2 linked regions of the Homo sapiens genome follow. The protein of the gene in region 1 purifies or fractionates together with the protein of each later gene. This does not show direct contact. Each region holds a gene or a part of one and is shown on either strand. Other genes may lie near its edges.

Evidence for each region.
Region 2: the proteins of SLC25A21 (region 1) and TBX20 purify together in Homo sapiens (affinity purification with mass spectrometry; 3 studies listed by BioGRID and IntAct, with this or other methods). This does not show direct contact.

The regions. Positions count from the first base shown.
Region 1 is NC_000014.9:37,169,572-37,177,093, reverse strand, and holds the start of SLC25A21 (mitochondrial 2-oxodicarboxylate carrier), read left to right. Parts: upstream 1-4,487; 5' UTR 4,488-4,743; coding exon 4,744-4,813; exon of another isoform or gene 4,814-5,068; intron 5,069-7,522. UniProt on the Homo sapiens protein: Transports dicarboxylates across the inner membranes of mitochondria by a counter-exchange mechanism.
Region 2 is NC_000007.14:35,202,071-35,209,107, reverse strand, and holds the end of TBX20 (T-box transcription factor TBX20), read left to right. Parts: intron 1-4,525; coding exon 4,526-4,638; intron 4,639-6,337; coding exon 6,338-6,678; downstream 6,679-7,037. UniProt on the Homo sapiens protein: Acts as a transcriptional activator and repressor required for cardiac development and may have key roles in the maintenance of functional and structural phenotypes in adult heart.

The DNA of each region.
Region 1 (7,522 bases):
TAACTGGATACATAATTCTGGAGATTCAGGGACGTTGGTTATTTCCATGGCTGGAAATAAGAACTGGGGAGTCATCAGTGTATAAAAATTACTTTTAACTAAGGCCCTGGATGAGTTTACCTGAGAAGAGAATATGGATAAACAAAAGAAGAGAGTATATACCCAACATCTGGAGCACTCCAATAGATATTAGGTATAGTAGGAGGAAAACGGAAAAAACAAGATCAGACCACACAGAAGTAAGAAATACAGGAAAGTGTGGTATCATAGAAGCCAAGAGGAGAAAGGTTTTTTTTGTTTTTGTTTTTTTTGTTTTTTTGTTTTGAGACAGAGTTTCGCTCTTGTTGTCAAGGCTGGATTGCAATGGCACAATTTGGGCTCACTGCAACCTCCGCCTCCCAGGTTCAAGTGATTCTCCTGCCTCAGCCTCCTGAGTAGCTGGGATTACACGCACACGCCACCACACCTGGCTAATTTTGTATTTTTAGTAGGGACGGGGTTTCTCCATGTTGGTCAGGCTGGTCTGGAACTCCTGACCTCAGGTGATCTGCCTGTCTCGGCCTCCCAAAGTGCTGGGATTACAGTCGTGAGCCACTGTGCCCAGCCCTTTAATTTTGACACAATCAGAAAAGAAAGTTTTTAAACAAAGGGTGGTCAGGTGTTTTTTTTTTTTTTTTCCCAAATGTTGGAAAGTTAAATAAAATGATATCAGAGAAGTGACCTCTGGAACACTTGGCGATGTCTGGAGACATTTTTGGTGATCATAATCGGGAGGGAGTTGTTACTGGCATCTATTGGACTGAGGTCAGGGACGCTGCTAAATATCCAACAATGCACAGAACAGCCTCCTTCAACAAAAAATTACCTGTCAACAGTTCTTTGGTCTGACTTAGAAAATTCATGCTAGCCGGGGCTCACACCCATAATCCCAACATTTTAGAAGGCCAAGGTGGGAGGATGGCTTGAGTTCAGGATTCATGATTAGCCTAGGCAACTTGGCGAAATGCCCTCACTATTAGACATTTTTTGTTTTAAATAACAACAGGCTGGGCCTGCGATCCCAGCATTTTGGGAGGCTGAGGCTGGTGGATAACTTGAGGCCAGGAGTTTGAGACCAGCTTGACCAACATGGTGAAACTCCTTCTCTACTAAAAACACAAAAATTAGCCAGGTGTGGTGTGTGCACCTGTAATCCCATATACTCAGGGGGTTGAGGAGAATCGCTTGAACCCGGGAGGCGGAGGTTAAAGTGAGCTGAGATAGTGCCATTGCACTCTAGCCTGGGCAACAGGACAAGACTCCATTTCACAAAACGGCAGCAACAACAACGACAATAAAAAACCCCCATAAATAGTAGCTTAATAATATAGCCTAATCATAGAAGGTCTAATAATAAACATAGCCTGGCCAGGCCTGGTGTGGCTTACACCTGTAATCCCAGCACTTTGGGAGGCATAGATGGGAAAATTGCTTGAGTCCAGCAGTTCCAGACCAGCCTGGGCAACATAGAAAGACCTTGTCTCTAAAAAAGATTGTTTTAAAAATTAAAACAAAACAAAAAACCATAGCCTAACAAATAGAGGGCTCCTAAATTATACTTACGTTCAAATTAATACCTTAGCCGAATACTCAGTGTTATTTTGGGGGAGTTACTTAATCTCAGTGCCAGAGTTTCCTCCTTTGTAAAACAGGAATGAGATAATGGATTACAAAATGCTTAATTAGCCCAGTTTCTGGGAGAAGGTAAAGTCAATGAATGTTGTTACTACAATTGACTAGATAGGTTGAATATGGCCTGAAGGTTGCAGATTGCTCTTTACTTTCCTAGAACCTCCCCTATTCTCCCCAAACAATCCAATTATCTTTTAATATGTTATTTCTAATCTGATATGAAACAAGAAATCAGATATCCACCCTTTTAAAAACTGGTTCTAAAATTAGTTCTAAATGGATTTCTGCATGTTGATGGCTTAGAGGCTTTCTTAACTCCTAGATTCCCAGTTATGTTCCTGAAGGGTTTTTTTAGCCACTTGACAAACGATAGGGAAGTCAATAATCATGTAATTATCAACCAAGATCAGCTAAATAAATCAATAATTTAAAGAATATAATCTTCATACTTTAGCAGTTTTGCCCCATTAGGATATCACATCACTATTCCAAATAATAATAGAACAACAATGTAATAGAGGCTAGGGAATCTGAAATAGGTCAAGTAAATATTACCATTGCTTCCCAGTACTAAATCTTCCAGCATTCCAATATTGGCCATGAGCAAATTTAGCTGCAGATAAGAATTACATTCCATTATCAGAGCGTTTAGCACAGTGAGTACTTATTGGCTCTGTATTGACTCTTGTTAACTCCCAAGCTCTAGAATGTTCTCATGCCTAGGCCCCATATCCTCTAGTATTCTAGAGGTATAGGACTGGATTATATGTGATATCAAGTCTTGCTTTTTTCACTCAAAGATATCTCTTCTAGTCTGGAGAGGTTAAAAAGAGGAAGTAACTTTTTAACAAGGATAACTGGGAGTTTTCCAACTGAATCCACAGAGCTTTTTAGAGGCTGGGTCTTAGACACAAACTTGCTCCCACCTACCATGGATAAGATCTTCAGAGGGGAAGACACTCATGGAAATAATTATGTCAAAAGATTGTCTTTAAATCTTGACCTAAAAGTATTATTGCATTTCCTGGATAACGTAGGGAAGGCAAAAATTTACTTACAAGGTGGTAGGATCTCCTCCATTAGATTGTAAGTGCCACAGGGAAGGGATTTGTAGTGATATTGTCAGTACCTAGGCAAGTGCTAACACTTAGTGAGCTCTCAGTGTAGAATCTGTTTCAGTGTGTGCACTAGGGTTTAATAGTTGTGACCAAATTTTTAAAAACTAAAAAAAAATGGAATTAATTTGTGGGGGTATTTGTGTCACAGAATGTAGTTTTTTTAGCCTGTGGTTAATATTTAAATCTACAATCCAATGCTATCAAAAGAAGGAGTCCTGTGATGGAATCCCAGCTATACTATTACGCCTAGTGTGATCTTGGAAAACTCAGCTTCTGCTTTGAAAAATGAGGAAAACATTTTCTATGAGCTCTGAAATTCTGTTTCTATACCTAGTATATAACAGGTTCTCAATATTTGTTGAATAAGTGATTCTATATTGCACTCAAGATTCCCTATTTAATTAGTAAAAAGTCTGAAAGATATTGCTCAAAAGCCTTTATCAAGTTAGCAAAATTTCTGAAAACTATTTCTTGGTAAACATTTTCAAACTTAGCAGTTTTAATCAAATATTTAATGAAATGAAAAACTTTATTTTTGTATATCTGATCACATAAGCAGCAAGTCTCCCCAATTCCTCAAGCACTTTAAATAATTTTGCCATATATCACTGATCAACTTTTAATGACTCAGCCTAAGAAATAAAAAATCAAGTATGAAACCAAATTATTGTACTTTGTACATTTGATTAGAAACCACATAAATTGAACCATACTAAATTGCTGATATTCAACGGTTTTTGACCTCCAAAAATGGCAATTTTTACATGGCTCACACTAAATATATTTAGCAATAAATAATGTGTTTTAAGAAATATTACAATAGGGCTTCTAAAGCCTCCCAATTCTCTCTTTTACTCTTATCATCTCCTGTCTGTTAGGGGTGTGGCAGGTATTTTTGGAAAATTTCACAATCTTATATCTCTCCTACATAACACAGGCAACTTGTAGTTTTAAAAGAGTATAAATTAGTAGTTTTGTTTTGGTAACTATCCTAAGGGGCTAGTAAGAATAATCAAACATTTTATTGAGAGAATATACTGTTAAGTTCCTTAATGTTCCTCAATTGTTTAAGTCAGTGGTTCACAACCTTTAAAGTTCATGACAATCAACAGAGAACTCGTTTCTGGGCCCTATCCCCAGAGATTCTGATTCCGTTTAGGTCGGGGTGGGACCCACGAATTTGACTTCCTAACACATTCACAAATTATGCTGATGCTGTGGGTACTAAAACCACTTTTAAGAACCACTGACCTGGGTATAGAAGAAACTATTTGTAACCAGGCTTTTTCTTCTTTTGGTCCTTAGGTAAATAAAACTCAAGTTGATGAGGTATGATTTTACCTTAAATCAAAACCATTTTTGGTAAAGTACTACCTTAGCTCTATTGTAAGGTAAGTGTAAATTAGATTTGCTTTGACTTAGTTGCTACAGACCACAATTATAGGACAACTAACTGAGGAATTTATTCACTTGTCCCTTCTTTTGAACCTCACTGTGCTCTGGCTTGCCAGGAGGTGCAAGTGTCGTCCCCGCTTTGTACTTGGCGCTCCAGGCCTGGGTCACTTCACTTGAGTTATCAGAGGCAACCGTCTAGTTTGACAAACTACCGGAGGCTCCTGATAGAGAAGGGCGTGGGCGCCAATCTAGGAGACAAAGCCTGAGCCGCTGCGGTGAGCCAACCCAAACCCATCCGCGGGTCTTCTTTCCAGAGACATTTTCGGAGCCGAGGGCGCCTCTGCGAGAGCGCTGCGAACAGGTTCCGACGCGCCGGAGATCGCGCGACGAATCTGCGCCTCGAACCCTCGCTTTCCAGCAGTCGCCGGATTGCTGCTCCACAGGGAGCCAACGCGCTTGAGGACCAGCCCAGCCGGGGCTCTCTGGATCAGTAGGCTGTGCAGGCTGCGAGCTCGTTGACGCATCTCAGCCCACTCCCTTGTCCTCCCGCCTGGCGAAGATGTCCGCCAAGCCTGAAGTCAGCTTAGTGCGCGAGGCTTCTCGGCAGATCGTGGCCGGTGGTTCTGCAGGTAAGGACAGCCCGCCCTGCCCCGCCGGAGGCTAGTCGCTTTCCCCACCGCGTGTCCTGAAACCGTTGCCCAGACAGGTCTCCTTACTGAAGTTCTGCCCTCTTCCTCAAAATTCAGCGCTCCCGGAGCAGTGCTTGAGCCCCTAGAGGCGCGAGAGCAGAGGAGGCCGGGAGTTGATTGCGAGTAGTGGGTGCCCCAAGTAAAGTTGCCTCGGCGTCCGCGCCGGCCGCTCTCGGGTTCCCGGCATTGTCCGTTCCTAGCCTGTAAAGCAAGTGGCAGAGCCCCAAGGGCAGCGACTTTGAGGCGGTCTTTTTGCCTTGCTACCTATTTTACTTGAAAATGATCCAGTTCGGTCTGACTTAGTTTTATCAATTGTAGAGTCTTTCTTCAAGCTCGCTCAGGTCTTACATAAATCCTGCATTCCTCATCAAAGTACTTACAGGACTCCACAGGACTTCTTATTGCATACTGTGCTTGCTTGGGGATATTCGTGCCTTAAATAAGGATATTAAAATTAAATGCATATGTAACACACATAAACACCTTTGATATAATGGGCTCACGTTAATTTATAGAGTTATGCTGTGGGGAAAAAATAAACCTTTAGAAAAAAATGTTGTAATTAATCTTAGAAATACTTTTAAATGTAGCTGGAGAAAGTTACTAACCACGACATGTGTTATGTGCAAGTATTTTAAAGCTATTTTAAAATATAAATTATGATTTGGTTTAAAATTTTATCTTACAGTCATGCATTTTTATTATAAATATATAATTAAAATAATTGCCATAATTGGCTCATAACCAGAAAACATTTTATAAATCTAGCCATTCTTTCAATAAATTATAGTAACTCTAATAAATCCTGTTAAGGCAATGACTAGAAAATGTTTAATGTTTAACTTCGACTAGTAAAAGTTTCTGTATTTTCAAACAAATTTGGACTTTTTGTAAGGGATTACTGCAAATTATGACTGGTTATCATTATGTCATGATCTACTTGCATCTCAGGAGTAACGTAAGCAGCCACGTGTCACTTACAATCTGTACACTTTCTTAAAGATGGTATTTCATCAATATCACATTAGAGCCATTCATTGCTTACAGGAAATTGTAAAATCTTTCCCCTCCCCTCCCCACCCCTCCCCTCCCCTCCCCTCCCCTCCCCCCTTTTTCTTTTCGATGGAGTCTCTCTCTGTTGCCCAGACTGGAAGGCACCGGAGCTGGATTGCCATGGCGCGATCTCGGCTCGCTGCTCCAACTCCCGGGTTCAAGCAATCCTCCCATCTCAGCCTCCTGAGTAGCTGGAATTACCGATGCGCATCACCATGCCGGCTATTTTTTTTTTTAATTTTTTTTGTAGAGACGGGCTTTCGCCATGTTGCCCAGGCTGGTCTCAACCTCCCGGGCTCAAGTGATCCTCTCACTGCAGCTTCCAGAGTAGCTGGGACTACAGGAGCCCACCACCATGCCCGGCTAGTTTTTTGGGGAGGTGGGGGAAGGGGATTTTTTTTTTTGTAGAGTCAGGGTTTCACCATGTTGTCCAGGCTGGTCTCCAACGCCTGGGTTCAAGCAATCTGACCCCCTTGACCTCCCAAAGTGGTGGGACTACAGGCGTGAGCCACCACCCGTTATTATAATTGCAGTGGCCCCACTGCTTGCTCTTTCAGTTTTCCAATTGTGATGATGAATTTGCACCAATTTATTTACCATTTTTGGTCAAATTCCGCAATGCCTAAGGTTCTGTCTTCTGTACCTGACTCGTTGATTTGTAGTCTATGACCCTGATGAAAGAAAACTCAGCTAGTCCAAAGAGAAAGTGAGGCCAATTGATTAACATCCTAAGCTAAGACTGATGACTCATAAGCACCTGTATGCTAATTTATATGATCATACTATGTATTAGGCACAGCTAAACTCAAAGAATGTTAAAAGTAGATCATACTCGGCCAGGCACGGTGTCTTACGCCTGTAATCCCAGGACTTTGTGAGGCGGAGGCAGGCGGATCACCAGGTCAAGAGATCGAGACCATCCTCCCCAACATGGTGAAACCCCGTTTCTACTAAAAATACAAAAATCAGCTGGGCTTGGTGGTGTCCGGCTACAGTCCCAGCTACTTGGGAGGCTGAGGCAGGAGAATCGCTTGAACCCAGGAGGCGGAGGTTGCAGTGAGCCGAGATCGTGCCACTGCACTCCAACCTGGCGACAGAGCGAGACTCGGTCTCAAAAAAAAAAAGTAGATCAAACTCTGATCCTACTTATGCTGTTTTGTTGAGTGATAAGTATTTGGCATAAATATGTGTGATTCCATCATATATTCTTATAAATGTAACTAATATAAATGCAAATTAGGATATTTATAAGATAAAAAATAGCATAGTTGATTTATATAGTTAATACTATGGAGTTATTAATAAATGATTAGAGTAACTTATACTTTCATAATAGTAAAAAAGAATTATATTTTCTTTTACTTGGCCAAAAACATTTTCATAAAACTTTATCTTTATTGCACTGTAGTACATGTGGGCTAATCATATTATATATACTTGGTCAAGGGCCAGATAGAAATCAATACACAAGAGAGGAAGAATTTTAATAAAAACAAAATAGATTTGAATCTCTGGCACTGGAGTTCTAATCACTGGTATTGTCCATGAATACAACACTTCTGTGTGTGTGTGTGTGTGTGTGTGTGTTATGACCTT
Region 2 (7,037 bases), on another chromosome or scaffold:
ATTGAATTAAAAAAACGATAATATGTCATAAATAACTAGGGCCTAGTTCAGGACTGCAAGGTCGATTTAACATTTGAAATTCAATGGATGTAATGACCATGCTGACAAACTAAAAACAAAACTATATGATTGTCTCAACAGACACAGAAAAAGCATTTAGCAAAATTCAACCTCTATTCTTGAAAACTCTCAGCAAACTAGGAATAGAAGAGAACCTTTAGTCTAGTAAATTGTATGTACAAAAAACCTAGAATGAATATTATATCTAATGGTGAAAAATTGAATGCTTTCTGTAAGATAAAGAACAAGTTATTGATGTCTGTTCTTTTTTTTTTTTTTTTTTTTTTTTTTTTTTTTTTTTTTTTGAGACGGAGTTTCGCTCTTGTTGCCCAGGCTGGAGTGCAATGGCTCAATCTTGGCTCACTGCAACCTCCAGCTTCTGGGTTCAAGTGATTCTCCTGCCTCAGCATCCCGAGTAGCGGGGATTACAGGCATGGGCCATCATGCCCAGCTGATTTTGTATTTTTAGTAGAGACGGGGTTTCTCCATGTTGGTCAGGCTGGTCTTGAACTCCCGACCTCAGGTGATCCGCCCACCTTAGCCTCTCAAAGTGCTGGGATTACAGGCGTGAACCACTGTGCCTGGCCCATTCTTACCACTGCTAATTCAACATTGTACAGGTAGTTTTAGCCATTGCAATAAGTCAGGAAAAATCAAAGTCATTGTGATTGAAAAGACAGAAGTAAAACTATCTTTGTGTACAGGCATCGTGAATATCTATACAGAAAACCCAAATCTCCAAAACCCACTAGAACAAATAAGTGTTTGGCAAGTTCACAGAATACAAGATCAATATACAAAATAAATTGTATTTCTATCTATTATAAATGAATATCAGAAATTGAAGTTAAAAAGCAATATTTACTATAATACGAAGTAGGGAAAATCTGGAAAGGATATGCAAGACATATATACTTAAAACTACAAAAACATTGTTGAGAGAAATTAAAGAAGACCTAATGAAACAGAAGGATGTACTGGTTCATGATTTGAAGGATGCAATATTAAGATATCAGTTATGCACAAATTGATATGTAGATCTAAAATAATCCTGACCAAAATCACAGGAGTCTTTTTTGTAGAGATTGACAAAGTAATATTAAATTTCATATGGAAATGCAAAGAACTAGAATAGCCAAAACAACTTTGAAAAAAAAGATAGAGTACTAATACTACCTAATGTCAAAAGTTCTAACACTTTTATTCAGCTACAATAATCAAGACAGTATAGTTTTGGTGTCAAGTTCCACGAACACATCAATAGAATAAAGAGTCCAAGAGTAGACCCACATGTATGTGATGGAGAAGGGACAGTCTTCTCAACAAGTAATGTTGAAATAATGGGATATTCATAAGCACAAAAATAAACAATTCATAACTCATTCATATATAAAATTAACTCAAGATGAATCATAGACACAAACATAAAACCTCACACTATAACACTTACAGAAAAAAACTAGGAGAAAACTTTTGTGGTCTTGGGCTAGGCAAAGATCTTAAAATATGGCACCAAAAGCGTGATCCATAGAATTACAAATGGATAAATTGCACTTCATCAAAATTAAAAACTCTGCTTTTGAAAAGAAACTGTTTAGGAAAGAGAAAACGCAAGCCACAGCCTAGAAGAAAATATTTGCAAATCATATATTCTATAAACACCAGTGCCCAGAATATAAAAAGAAATCTCAAAACTCAGAAAACAAATAACCTAATTTTTTAAACAGATTATTAACAGCTAGAAATATGGAAGCAAATAAGCACAGAAAAAGATGTTCAACATTGTAGTCATTAGGGGAACACAATTAAAAGTATGATGGAATACCAGCACATGCATATTACAATAGCTAAAATTAAACATTGACCATATCAGGCATCAGTGAGAGTATAGAGGACCTGGAGTTCTCATACACTGATGGTGGGAATGCTAAATTGTATGACTACTTTGACAAATAGTTTGGCAGTTTCTTTAAAAATTGCACATATATGCAATTTAGTCATTTCATCCTTAGATGTCTTTCCAAGATAAATAAAAGTATATGTCCATTTGTTAAAAAGTATGCATGAATATGTGTAGCAGCTTCATTTTAACATTCAAAAACTAGAAACAAGTCAAATATCCATCAATAAGTGAATAAACCATAATATATCCATGCAATATAATGCTACTCAGTACAAGAAATATTAATGTATGCCCCAACATGATAAATCTTAAAATATGCTGAGTGAAATAAGCCAGATAAAAAAGAATATATTAGCTAAGATTTCATCTTTGTAAAAGTTTAGAAAATGCAGACTAATCTGCAAGAACAGAAATTATATTAGTGGTTTCCTTGGAAAGGTTTGTTGCGATGGGGACCATGGAGCATAGGAGCTTGAGGAAGCTAGCTTTTGTAGGTGTTAGATATTTTTGTTATTGTGCTTGTGGCAGTGGTGTCAGTGGTGCGTACATATGCCCAAACTGATCAAACTATACACTTTATTTCTATTTTTATTTTTTTAAGATGGAGTTTCACTCTTTTGTCTAGGCTGGAGTGAAGTGGCACGATCTCGGCTCACTGCAGCCTCTGCCTTCAGGTTCAAGCAATTCTCCTGCCTTAGCTTCCTGAGTAGCTGGGTTTATAGGTGCCCACCACCATGCCTGGCTGATTTTTGTATTTTTAATAGAGACAGGGTTTTGCCATGTTGGCCAGGCTTGTCTTGAACTCCTGACCTTGGGTGATCCACCCGCCTGGGCCTCCCCAAGTGCTGGGATTACAGGTGTGAGCCACCGGCCCCGGCTCCGGCCCCATACACTTTAAATGTGTGCCACTTTTTGTATTTTAATCATATCTCAATATAGTTTGTTTGTTTCAAGATCCCTAGTTGATTCAAACATACACACAAATTTGAGAATCACTACTCTAATCCTTCAAGTCCCTGATTTCACCCTGCAGAGGCAACCTCTTCTAGGCAGTTTCTTGTTCTGGAAACTGGAACATTCTAGAAATCCTGTGCACATGCAGGCATATATGAACATACATATCCTGTGTTCTAACTTCACAAATGGTAGCATACTTTACATAACATTCTGTATTTTACTTTTTTCACTTACTATATCTTGAAAATTATTCCATATCTATACATATGGAATGACCTCATTCTTTTTGACACCTATGTGTTAATGCAGTGGATCTGGATCCTAATTATTTTGACTATAAGAGGTGGTACTTTATTCTTACTCTAAAATAATTTGAGAATAGAGATGTAACTTAAATAGTTGCAGAGTTAATTTTCCTTTTAGGCATATCCTTAAGTCCTCATAGTCATAGTCATACTATATATTATAAAATGCCTTCATCTATGTGGGTATATAAGCTTTCTACAACACCAAATTTACTATGAATTAGGTAGTAATTTTTCACAGGTAAAGTTTGCATATTTATGTGAAATGTTGACAAGTGTTAACATTTTAAAAAGTTATTATGACATTTTATTTGCTTTGCTTATTCCCTCAATATGAAATGTGGTGTTTGGTTGTCCTTCCTCATTTAACACATATTTTATAAGTCTTCTTTTGTCCTTTGCTGGTCAATTTGGCATTGGTCTTTGGGCCACAGCTGTTCCAGAAATGTGTGCCATGCAGACTAATCTGTTATCAGTATGCACTTTTGGCGAACAAATTGGCTAAAATTGTACTGGCTTTTTTTTTTTTAAAAGCAGAAGGTCAAATTGTCCAATGCCAAATTTTTTTTTTATTTTTTAAAGTTAACCTCACTGTTTGGTTGATAGACTATGTTACAGGAGGAAGACCATCTACAAGACAATGTACCAATTTACCTAGAGGCTAAAACTCCTTATTGGTCATTTGTGTTTTCTTCATGGGTTTTTTGTAATTTTCAGTCTTACAGCAACAAGGATCTTAGTGTTCATTACCCAAACTATCTATATTGTACTATAATCTATGAATTTGTTTGATTTCTTGGTGAATATTAGAGTCTTTCGCTGACTAATGATAATTTGAACTTTTTGCCAACATTTCATTGGTTGTTGGATCAGTGCAATTTGTATCAACTGAGTATTTGTTTTGTATTTGTTAGCTGATGAAGTCAGTAAGAAGAGTCATTGCAGCTCCTTGCAGTAAATTCATTCACTCATTATTTTTCACATCATGGAATTTCATATTCTTGTGGTCAGGTTTCATAGCTCCTGTTCACCCCTTTGTCCTTCATTTTAAAGTATTTCAGGGGATTGTCCTTGTCCTAGTCAGTCATGTTTGCTTGCAGTCATACACCTGAGGTCATGTCTCTGAGGAGTCACTGTACAACAGAATAAATGTACATGTTTTGAATTTCATCTTTCTGTGCAGTGGTTGCTTTTTGGCTGAGAAAATGGTTTTACTGATTAGTGAGTTACCTCTAAGACCTCTCTGTATCTCTGAGTCCTTTACATTTTACTTAACCTGTGATATGTCACTCTAACCTAGGGAAAGTGTGGAGAGCCTGATTCAAAAGCATTCCTATGCACGCTCACCCATCCGTACCTACGGAGGAGAAGAAGATGTCTTGGGGGATGAGAGTCAGACAACCCCAAATCGAGGTAAGGTAGTTTCCAAGGCCATGGAATTGCTGGGAGGCAGAGCACCTAAAGGAGAATGGGGGCAGGTCGTTGATGAGATGGCCAGTCCTCAGAGTACACGATGCCGGGAAAGGATTTCAGGAGCCTCCTTGGGAAGGGAGAGCCCCGACACTGATCCTCACAGATTTCATTATTTTGCCTTTGAATCATAGGCGATGATGCTGCCTGCAGGTTTCCTATGGTTTGTTTTTTTTTTAAGTGAAAGAATACTGAGCCTTTGAGTCAGGGATCAGGAGTTACTTGTCCATGACTTAGTACATAAGAGCTGTTGAACTTTGGGGGCAGTCACCAAGTCCTTCTGAACCTCAGTTTCATAATCTGAAAGTCAGGGAATATATCTGTTCCATCTATGTCAGGTATAATTTGTTAGAATCAAAGACCAAAATAGAAAACACTTTTAAAAGAGGATTGTCCTAATGAAGGATATTACATAGAGGAAGTGGCCCCAGTGTTGACAGCAGGAACTGAACAAAGTTTCTCTGTTCCCAAGGCTTAGAGAGCAGCCCTCTGCATCTGGGAAGAGAGTCCAGAGAAAAGAGCCCAGAGGGGCTCCATTCTGGGAACAGTAAAGTTCGTATGGGGAGAGAGTCCTCTGCATTGTTTTATGTCCTTAATATGAAATTATATAATCTGTGAAAACATAGGACATTTCTTATTACTCAGTCCAAGTGAACCACTAGTATTACAGTTGACTCTTGAACAACACAGTGGTTGGGGAACCAACTCCTGTGTGGTCCAAAACGTGCATATAACTTTTCACTTCCTAAAACTTAACTGCTAATAGCCTACTGTTGATCAGAAGCCTTACCTGTAACATAAACAGTCAATTCACACATATTCTGTATGTTACATGTATTACATTCTGTATTCTAATAATCAAGCTAGAGAAAAAGTTATTAAGAAAATCATAGAAAGGAAATATATTTACTATTCCTTAAGTGGAAGTGGATCATCATAAAGGTCTTCATCCTCATCTTCACACTGAGTTGGCAGATGAGGAAGAGGAGGGGTTGGTCTTGCTGTCTCGGAGGTTGTAGAGGCTGAAGAGGTGGAGGAGGTGAAAGTGAGGCAAGAGGGGTCAGGCCTACTCAGTGTAAATTGTAGTGAAAAATATCTGCATGTAAGTGGACCCGTGCTGTTCTAACCCCTGTTGTTCAAGGGACAACTGTATACAGTCAGAAAATTCATTGTCAACTCTATTCTAAATTTCTGGATGCTGTGGTGGGAAAACTTACTTTCTTAGGTTCTCACAACAGTTTTGGAAACCAGACAGCTTGGTAGATATTTCTTACATTCAGCCTTCCTTAGGACACTACAGAGGTCAGAACAGATATCAGGTATTTGCAGCTTTTTTTAAGAGAATCAGGTCATTACCTGCAGGCAGGGTATTAATGTTTTGGCCAGTCTGTGGGAGTGTACAGGCTATCCAATGAGTTGTCTTTTTCCATTTAGTAAATTCTCTATTCCATGCAAGGTGTAAATATCATCTTCTTACCTAGAAAAGTAGATTTGCCTCGTGACAGATCTCATATGTGTTTGTCTTTCTAAATTACAGACGTATTAAATATTCTTAAACACAAATTGATCTTTACAGATAATTTAATTCTTGATCTGTACATTGACACAGTGTTTCCAGTCTAATGAGTGTTTTTCCTTACAGGGTCAGCCTTTACAACATCTGATAATTTGTCTCTCAGCTCCTGGGTATCATCTTCTTCCAGTTTTCCTGGGTTTCAGCACCCACAGTCCCTGACTGCTCTTGGCACCAGCACAGCATCCATAGCAACACCCATTCCTCACCCCATCCAGGGTTCTCTGCCACCATATAGCCGACTGGGAATGCCTCTGACACCATCGGCCATTGCCAGCTCCATGCAAGGGAGTGGCCCCACATTCCCTTCATTCCACATGCCGCGATACCATCACTATTTTCAGCAGGGGCCCTATGCTGCCATTCAAGGACTACGCCATTCCTCTGCTGTGATGACGCCATTTGTATGACTCTTCTAAAAATGGGAGAATCCAGATCCAGAATGTGCAAGTGGGTATGGAAATATAGGACAGGGCTGGGTGGGTGGGATGTGGGGTATCGGAGCAGGGGCTTTCCAGGAGACACAGGACCTATCAAAGAGGAGAGCCAGACTCACAATAAAACCTACCACTGAGGGAATGCACCACGGACCAGGATTCATCTGAGGGACAGCTCTTGGGTTCAGGAGAGAATCCATGTAAAGTTCTCAGCCAGCCTGAAAGTTTACTAATACAAGGCTGATGAATCTTAAAGTGCATTATTCCTCATGGTTAAAACGCTGTGTTCATGCAGTAATGTATAAAATCATTGTGTGTAGGGTTTCTTCCTG